Linked DNA regions of Homo sapiens. The protein of the gene in region 2 interacts with the protein of the main gene of each other region in a pairwise test. Each region holds a gene or a part of one and is shown on either strand. Other genes may lie near its edges. The genes, in order: CHRM5 and CBFB.

Region 1 (4,483 bases), on a different chromosome or scaffold from region 2:
TTTTATCATAGTTTAAATAAAAAGCTTATAGCTTTTGGATAATTTAAAATGACCAGAATTTAAGGATATAGCAATAGGTATTATTATAAGGATATGGCAGCCAAAATATTTGCTCCATTTCTATGAAAGGAACTAATGATACACAATCACATTACTTTTACAATATAATACTTTTATATAATATGTGTGAATGAAATACATTCTAAATTGCAGAAACAAGTAGGCAGGTCATTGACTACATCCCAAGACTGTTCAGAATCTCTTTAATTGTTAAATCTATCAATAACAGGGAAAAGTTGTTATAAATAAACCAAATCTTCAGGTACTAGCATAAAATCCCTCATCCATTTGTACCCATGAGATGTAAACTTGAAGCAGTTTTCAATTTTTTTTTCACCCTACATGAAGAAAATACAGATTATTCCAAATTGCTGTAGGGTATTTTTTTGAAAGCTGTTACCAAAACTTCAGTAATCACTTTTCTGAATGGGTTATTATAGAGCAAAGCCTTGATTTGGAAAGGAAAGAAAGTGAAAATTCACTGGGATTGATGCTGACAAGGACCAAATTGGGGTGGAGCAAGGTAGTATTCATTTGCCCAGCCATTGTCATTAGAAGGTGAGTTATAGAAACAAAGCCCCCAAATTAGTGGGATATGAGTCTCTGTTTACATTACAATGAGTAAATAAAATCCAGAACACTTAAGGAATATTGTTATCTGCCCCCTTTAATTCCATTTATTGGAAGCAAATTGAGCATAGTAGAAATTTCATACTTTTGTCCAAGTTAATTAAAAAATCTTTAATTATAATTTAAAATATTGATTAATATTCTTCATTTAAAATATCTACATATTTTTGAATCATGTCTGTTTACAAACTGTAATACCATAATAAGGAGGGAACAGATGAAAAGAACCCTTAAGGGTTCAGCTGTTTCTCAGTGTAGGTAAACAACAACAATACCACCCTTAACTTTTAGTTATGTCTGGTATGCATAAGAAGTATTTTGAGATTTCTAAATAAACATTTTTTTCTCTGAAACAAATTGTTGTATTAGATAATCACTACTTGTATTAAATTGCTGCTTTCCTTTGGTACTGGAAAATGACAGGTAAGTTTCTGTAATGACTTCAGATGTAAAAGACTTATGATATTTAAGGTTATTTATAGACTGTCTTGAAAAGCCTGAAGGGATCATATAATTTACTCCCTTAACTAAAATTTGAAAAAAGGAAAGAATTCAGTGAAATGGAAGAGAATTTCTAATTTGACTACTTTTAGACAAGTATTGAATACTTACTTCTGATAACTTTATGTATATTACCACAAGATCTCCGTAGTTAGGTGTGATATGCTCTTGTTTCCCTGTCTCCTCTCTTCTAAGATAATATAAATATTATTTGTTGTAGGACTTCTTTATGATAAGGTGCTTTGGACCTAAGTTTTCCAATGAAACTCATGAAAACCAATGTGGTTGGGATTTCTGCTAAATGATAACGTTTTGTTGTTTTTACATAAGATTGTCACTCTAGAAGTCTCATTATGCAGTGATTTCTAGGGAATTTCTTAAAGGCACTGTATCTTTTAAAATCCTTTGATGGCTTCACTAGTGCTTTGCATTTTACAGTTTGGACCACTGACCTGAGTCAAAGCTTTTGAGGTTTTAAGGTACCAGACATCTTTCATCTTTTTATCCTCTTGTTGAATCAGAAAAATGTCTTCATTTAGTCTGTTATAAAAATGTCTAGTATCTTTAGGATAAATTAGCCCTATCCTACAAGAGTGTTATACCTCGATTTAGTAGAGATTATTTTTCTTTAGTATGAATGAAATGACATCACAGCTTTTTTTTCTTAGTAACAATAGAAATCAGTCATTGAGCTTTTGTTCCTTTATATGAATAAAAATATTTAAAATGCTTATTAATTTTTCTTTGTTTTATCAAGTACTCTGGGAAACTAAGTTCATTTGAATATTGTTGGTAAACATTATCTGTGAATGGCTCTTATGCACCATTCAGGGCTCTCTTCATGCATTTTTTTCAAGCTATTAAATAAAACAAAATTGGGATAAAAATAAAGACAAAGATGAGACAAATTCAATGAAAAATGAATGGGAGTTTTGGATGCTTTATTATCTAGTTCTGAGTGACTTGTTTATGCAGCATAAGTAAAAACAAGCGTTTACCTCAGCTTAAATCTGCAAAAGCTTAAGGAAGGGTTGCAAGAAATTCAAATCCACTATCTCATTCACAGCACGAGCAGATTTAATTTCAGTAGACAAGATATAAATTAAGGTTATAAAATTAAATCTTACCTGGCAGTGGTTTGTTTGAAGCTCAGTAATTTGAACTCTGGCTGGAAATAGTAAGCTTCGAGACCCAAAATGCCTTCTCTACTTTCCTTTCATGTTTTATTTTGCCAGTGTTTTATTTCTTGCAGTGTCTTTATATCTGTATTCCTGATAATCCTGTAGCATTAGTTAGGATAGTATGCGGTAGATGAAGACTCCATTTGGATAGGATTATAGAACCAGAAGGGTGAGTTTTGCCTTTATCTGGTAACAGCAGTTGATCTGATCACAAACAATCTGAGTGTTGAGAACTTATTAAAGATTCATTGAATGCTTCAGCAATGAGAAATCCTGGTTGTTCCTATATGCATTTGACCCCCTGGAAAAGTTCTGCTTGTTCGTATTTCAGAATTACACACGCTTCCAAATCAAGCTGCTTTAAAAAACATTATCTGGACTAGAAGCATGGATGTTCTTGCACTCTTGCTTTCCTTTCTCCATACGAACTTTTCAGTCCATCAGCTTCCTTTCTGTAGAAGATGAAGGCATTTCTTCTGTCCTCCTCATGCTTTTGTAACCCATGCTTCTGGTACCCTGTTTTTTGAATAGTGAGGTAAAAATCCAGAAGGAAGTACGGCTTTATCATGTCTCTGGACGGTGAGCGTACTTGGCATGAATGAAGAGCTGATAGGAGCTATTCAAACCAGACAGCAAACTGATGGGATGACGCTGCCATACATAAAAAACTCATTAATTACTTCCCCTGCTGGACAGCAGTATATCCTGAAAGGAAGAAAGAAAGGAGCAGATGATGATATTCGTTTTGATAGGTGTTCTCTGTTTGAACAGCTTGTCATTGAGAAGAGAATCCAGGAAAAGCTGCAGCTTCAGAGTGTGATCAGGTAGAATGGGCAAGAGTTATTTGACAGACAGTTAAGTGACGTATTTTGGGAGGAAAAAGAGGGCTTAGCATGGAGGTAGCTGGAATAAGGTTCCAAAATGCTTTTGAAAATGTTCATTTTTTCCTGTTAGTCTTTTTGGCTAGAAGCTTTTTTTTTTTTTTTTTTTTTTTTTTAAGCTTTGCTAGGCATTATTCACAGACATGTTGCTGAGTTATTTTCTCATATGGTTTTCCCTAAAGATGGAAAATAATTTTTAAAAGTCTTTGAGATAGAAAGAGTATACTGTGAGTTTTAAATATTTGTAGCAGAGAAAAGGCTGCCTTTTTTTTTTTTCCTAAATGTATGCCTGTTTTTATACATCTTTTGGGCATATGCGTTTTGTTGCTTTGGAGTAAAGCATTATAAGTCCTCATTTGATACAAACTTTTAACAGGGTCTTCATTAAAGCTTTTCCTTAAGTTAGATGAAATCCATATTAGCTGTATAAAAGAATAGATTTTTAAATGTCAATTTCATAATTTTTGCACTTCAGTTTTTAAATTTAAAATTCAAATTTTTAAAACTGCACTTCAGTTTAAAATTTAAATTTTAAATTTAAACGTTTTTTCCCTGCCTGAGTTCTTTATGAGTGTATCTAGACAATATAATGTTTTTAAATTTTAAAAAATTATTATGGAACATTTCAAACTTACACAAAACTCTGAAAAATAATACAAAAATAATACATGAACCTCCAGAAACTCATTACCAAGATTCAACAATTGTCAGATTCAATTCTTTGCTAAAATATTTTAAAGCAAATCTCATTTCACCTATTTGTACTTTAGTATGTATATTTTTAAAGTATGGACACTTTTTCACATGACCCTGTGCCATTATCACACCTAACACATTGGCTATAATCCTCTGGAGTCATATAATATCCAGTTCATTTTAAATTCCTTGTGTCTCAGAAACTATGTCTTTATGTAGGTTTTTTCTGAGTGAGAATCCAGACAAAGTATACACTTTAATTGTTAGCCAATAGAATTTTAAACACTGACAGATGAACATGTATGAGAAAGAAGTGAATTTTAGTTTTATAGTGGTCTTTGACACACATTTGTAATAGGAATATTTATGCAAGAGAACATATCTTTAGAATATTTTCTTGAACTTTTCCCACTTAACATTGCATGATACTGAAAAGGATTGTAATTTCATATGGTAATGATTGGTCATTATATACTGGTCACTTCTATAATAAATACCCCAAGTTTTAAGCCACTGATTATTAAGCCATTTCAA
Region 2 (4,257 bases):
AGGTCTAGAATGTCTAATTCATCCTGGAAATAAATTCATGACAAACACTAACCACCTGTACTACTACTATAATATTACAGCATTTCAGATATCCTATGGGTTGAATTCATAATTCCATTCAGCAAAGTCTGAGATGACAGAAAACACCCTACTAGCTATGATTCACCAAATTTCCAAAAAAATTCAGCTTTCAAAGATAGTGATGATAATACAACACATGGGGCTGCGTATGGTGACGCCGAGCCTGTAGTCCCAGCTATTGGGAGGCTGAGGCAAGAGGATCGCTTGAGCCCAGAAGTTTGAGGCTGTAGTGCCTCATGATTGTGCCTGTGAACAGCCACTGCACCCCAGCCTAGGCCACACAGCAAGACCTCTCTCTTAAAAAAAAAAAACGAAACAAGACCAGACGCGGTGGCTCACACCTGTAATCCCAGCACTTTGGAAGGCCGAGGTGGGAGGATTACTTAAGGTCAGGAGTTCAAAACAAGCCTGGCCAAGATGGTGAAACCCCGTCTCTACTAAAAATACAAAAAAATTAGCCGGGCGTGGTGGTGTGTGCCTGTAATCCCAGCTACTCAGGAGGCTGAGGCAGGAGAATCGCTTTAACCCAGGAGGCGAAGGTTGCAGCGAGCCAAGATCATGCTGCTGTGCTTCCAGCCTGGGTAACAGAGCGAGACTCCGTCTCAAAACAAAAAAGCAAACAGTGAGAGTACAAGTACTTTGTAACTTATCTTTTATACTTGCATCCTTTACCTCCAGGAAATTCTATCGTCAGGTATACCACCTTCCCTTTGCAAAAGGTAACCCAGGCAAAGGATGACACGATCATCGCACCAGCTAATGAATTCTTTTATTATACCACTCAGTGCCAAAACCTAAAAGTATGTCTTATGCACTTCAATCATATAAATACTACAATTACTCAAGAAATTTGCAAGTGGGCTAAAAGCTTGAGACTCTCTTTCATAACATGCACTAATGACCAAATATTCAGGAGCTCCTGATAAATTTAACCAGTATCTTCTCACTATTACAACTCTAAAAAGCTTTCACTTAAAATATCAAAATATTCTTTAAAAATAAATTTGAGTTCAGTGATGTAAAGGGAGAATTTTATGACATATGAATTATATCTGAATAAAAATAAACTGGTTTTATAAAGGGGGTGGGAGAAGTAAATTTCCAATGTCTTCCTACTGTTAACCCAAATTCAAATCGCACCTAGCTTCAAGCCTCTAACAATGCAGTGAGTCCAAGTCACCGAGCAGAGAGTAACAGCATTCCATTAGACAGTGCTTCAACTTTTTAAAAAATAATCAGGCCAGACGCAGTGGCTCACGCCTGTAATCCCAGCACTCTGGGAGGTCGAGGAGGGCGGATCACTTGAGGTCAGGAGGCCAGCTTGGCCAACAAGGTGAAACCCCGTCTCTACTAAAAATGCAAAAATTAGCCGGGCGTGGTGGCAGGCACCTGTAATCCTAGCTACTCAGGAGGCTGAGGCAGGAAAATCGCTTGAACCCAGGAGGCGAAGGTTGCAGTGACCCGAGATCGAGCCACTGTACTCCAGCCTGGGCAACAGAGCAAGACTCTACCTCAAAAAAATAGTAATAATCAACCTCTTTTCTTGGTTTCTTCCTACCACTCCCTCCTCATCAGCACCTCCAACAAGGCAAACCAAAAAGATGAGAGGAACTAGGACCCTTGGATTTTTTTTTTCAACCCAAGGTCTGGTGAAGACGCACTAAATCTGCCTCCTAAAACAAGGACCTCGAGATCAACCGTGGGTTTTGCCCATCTGTGCAGTTTTTAGGAACAGCAGCCCTACTCAGGACATGGGGATAATGGTTTCTTTCTGATTCTCCTGAAGCTTAACATTCTAAGAAAATGACATTTTTAGGGCCTTTTCCCCCCCCTCCCCTCTCTATTAGAATAAATAACTGGAGGAAAGATTTCTACTCGGCGATCTGGTAGTGAGACCGCTTGACACAGAGAATTACCGACAGATCTACCTTCTAAGAAACAAACTATCGCCGACCTTGAATGAAGCTCCACTTCTTTTTCCGAATGGGGGTTTGCTTGCTACAAATACCCTGAACCCTTCTTCGGTGTCGCCGCCTAAACAATGCCCTTCGCTTGTTTAGTCTGGCTCGGGTTCGAGCTCCACTCGCGGTGCTCCGTTGGCCGACACGCGCCACCGCGGCGAGCCCCAGGAAAAGCGTCTCCCCGCGAGTACCGGCCCGCGGCATCTGGTTTCGCATTTTGAATCCCGAGTAGGAAGTGAGACGGCGCCCACTCAGTTCCGGGAGCCGCAGCAGCCGCGCCGCCGTCCGGAACCGGCCTGGGCCGCCGCGGCCCCGCGCAACAAGTGACCCGCGCGCGCCCCGGGCCAGCCGACTTACGATTTCCGAGCGGCCGTCGCGGCAGGCGTTCTGGAAGCGTGCCTGGCGTTCCTCGTGGGGCCGGTCCCTGAAGCCCGTGTACTTAATCTGCAAGGCAAGACGGCCCGAAATCAGGAGCCAAATCCGCGGCGCCGCCCGCGCGCCCGCCCTCCCAGCGCAGCGCCGATAAGGGCAAGCAGAGGCTGCGGGCGATGGCCGCCCCGGCGAGATTGCCCCTCCGCGGGCGCACCGACCGGGACTCCCGGGGACCGTGCCGCCCAAACTTTTCTCCGCCCGGGCCCACTCGGGGCGCGCTGCGGCCTCCTAGCCGCCCGCCCGCCTGCCTCACCTCACACTCGCGGCTCAGCTTCCTAAAAAACTCCTCGTTCTCGAACTTGCTTCTCTGGTCGGGCACGACGCGCGGCATCTTCCCGCCCTGAGGCCGCGCCGGCCGGCCGCGCTCGGGGCTTGCGCGGGCACCCGCTGGCTGGCTCCGCGCTGACCGACTGACCGCCCACCCGCGGCGCCCGGACGCCCGCTTCCCTTTGTTTCAGGCGCCCGCCCGCGTGGGCTCCCGTTCCGGGGAGTCTGAGGCGCCGCCGCCCGCTCGAGCCCAACCCACGCCGCCGCCGCCGCCGCCGCCGCCTCAGCCGTTGCCTGCCGCCCGCGCAGCCCCAGCGCTCACCGCCCCCGGCCGCCGCCGCCGCCGCCGCCGCCACTTCCTCTCACCGCCCACCCCGCCCCCGCCGGCCCCACCCCTCCTCCTCGCGCGCCCGCCCGCCTCCAACTCCGGCAAACAAGACGCACCATTCACAACTCCGCGGCCCACGCCGCGCATGCGCCACCCGCCCGCTGGCGGAGCGGCCTGGCTGTGGCGCCCCGGGGCTCCTTCCGCATCAGGGCCCTTTTCCCCCTGCTCGCCCGCGGCCACTCGGCGTGGAGCTGTCGTTGGGGGATCCGCCTGGCCTTTAGCAGACGGGAGTAGCCAGCGCAGGCCTTTTCTACCGCCCTTCCTCGGTCATCTGGAACTTCTGGGTTCCCCAGGTGCGCGGAGTAACCCCAGATTGTCACTTGAACGCGAGGAAACCTAAGTCCTTGGGGACTTTTCGTCCCTAAACCGACCGGCAGGGGTGTAGGCTCTGCACGTTGAAGACTGAGGTGGAAACGGACCAAAGAATCCAACCGAGTCATGGTGGAAAGGTCGTGGCTTTTGGAGTCAGATGGGTCTTAGATGGGATCCCACTCAGCTACACTACCTGCTGGCTGGGGCCTTAGATAAGAATTGGACCACTAAACCTCAGTTTCCTTATTTCCAAAATGCAGACACTCCTAGGTTTGCAGTGTTAGCGTGAGAACCTTTATGTGGGTCTAGCACACAGTGGGAGCCCAATAAATTTAAGTTTCTAAAGAAGAACAAGCTGAGTTAAGAATGTAACCGATTGCCAGTCCATATACTTACTCAATGTGCAATCAGCTGCAAAAAATAAGATCCATAAATTCTAGGGAAGTTGTTTAGCCCAAACTGGAGAAAGTCTGACATGGGATTTATGGCAGAGTTTGATTCAAAGTTAGTCCTGTGGCCGGGCACTGTAGCTCATACCCGTAATCCCAGCCCTCTTTTTTTTTTTTTTTTTTTTTTTTTTTTAAACAGAGCCTCGCTCTGTCGCCCAGGCTGGAGTGCAATGGCGCGATCTCGGCTCACTGCAACCTCCGCCTCCTGGGTTCAAGTGATTCTTCTGCCTCTGTCTCCCGAGTATTTGGAATTACAGGCACCCACCACCACGCCCAGCTAATTTTTTTGTATTTTTAGTAGAGACGGGGTTTCGCCATGTTGGTCAGGCTGGTCTCGAACTCCTGACCTCAGGTGATCTGCCCGCCT

Evidence for each region.
Region 1: the proteins of CBFB (region 2) and CHRM5 interact in a two-hybrid assay, tested with the Homo sapiens proteins (one large-scale study listed by BioGRID and IntAct).

The regions. Positions count from the first base shown.
Region 1 is NC_000015.10:33,966,986-33,971,468, reverse strand, and holds the start of CHRM5 (muscarinic acetylcholine receptor M5), read right to left. Parts: upstream 2,973-4,483; 5' UTR 2,319-2,972; intron 1-2,318. UniProt on the Homo sapiens protein: The muscarinic acetylcholine receptor mediates various cellular responses, including inhibition of adenylate cyclase, breakdown of phosphoinositides and modulation of potassium channels through the action of G proteins.
Region 2 is NC_000016.10:67,027,956-67,032,212, reverse strand, and holds the start of CBFB (core-binding factor subunit beta), read right to left. Parts: upstream 3,065-4,257; 5' UTR 2,806-3,064; coding exon 2,728-2,805; intron 2,487-2,727; coding exon 2,400-2,486; intron 1-2,399. UniProt on the Homo sapiens protein: Forms the heterodimeric complex core-binding factor (CBF) with RUNX family proteins (RUNX1, RUNX2, and RUNX3).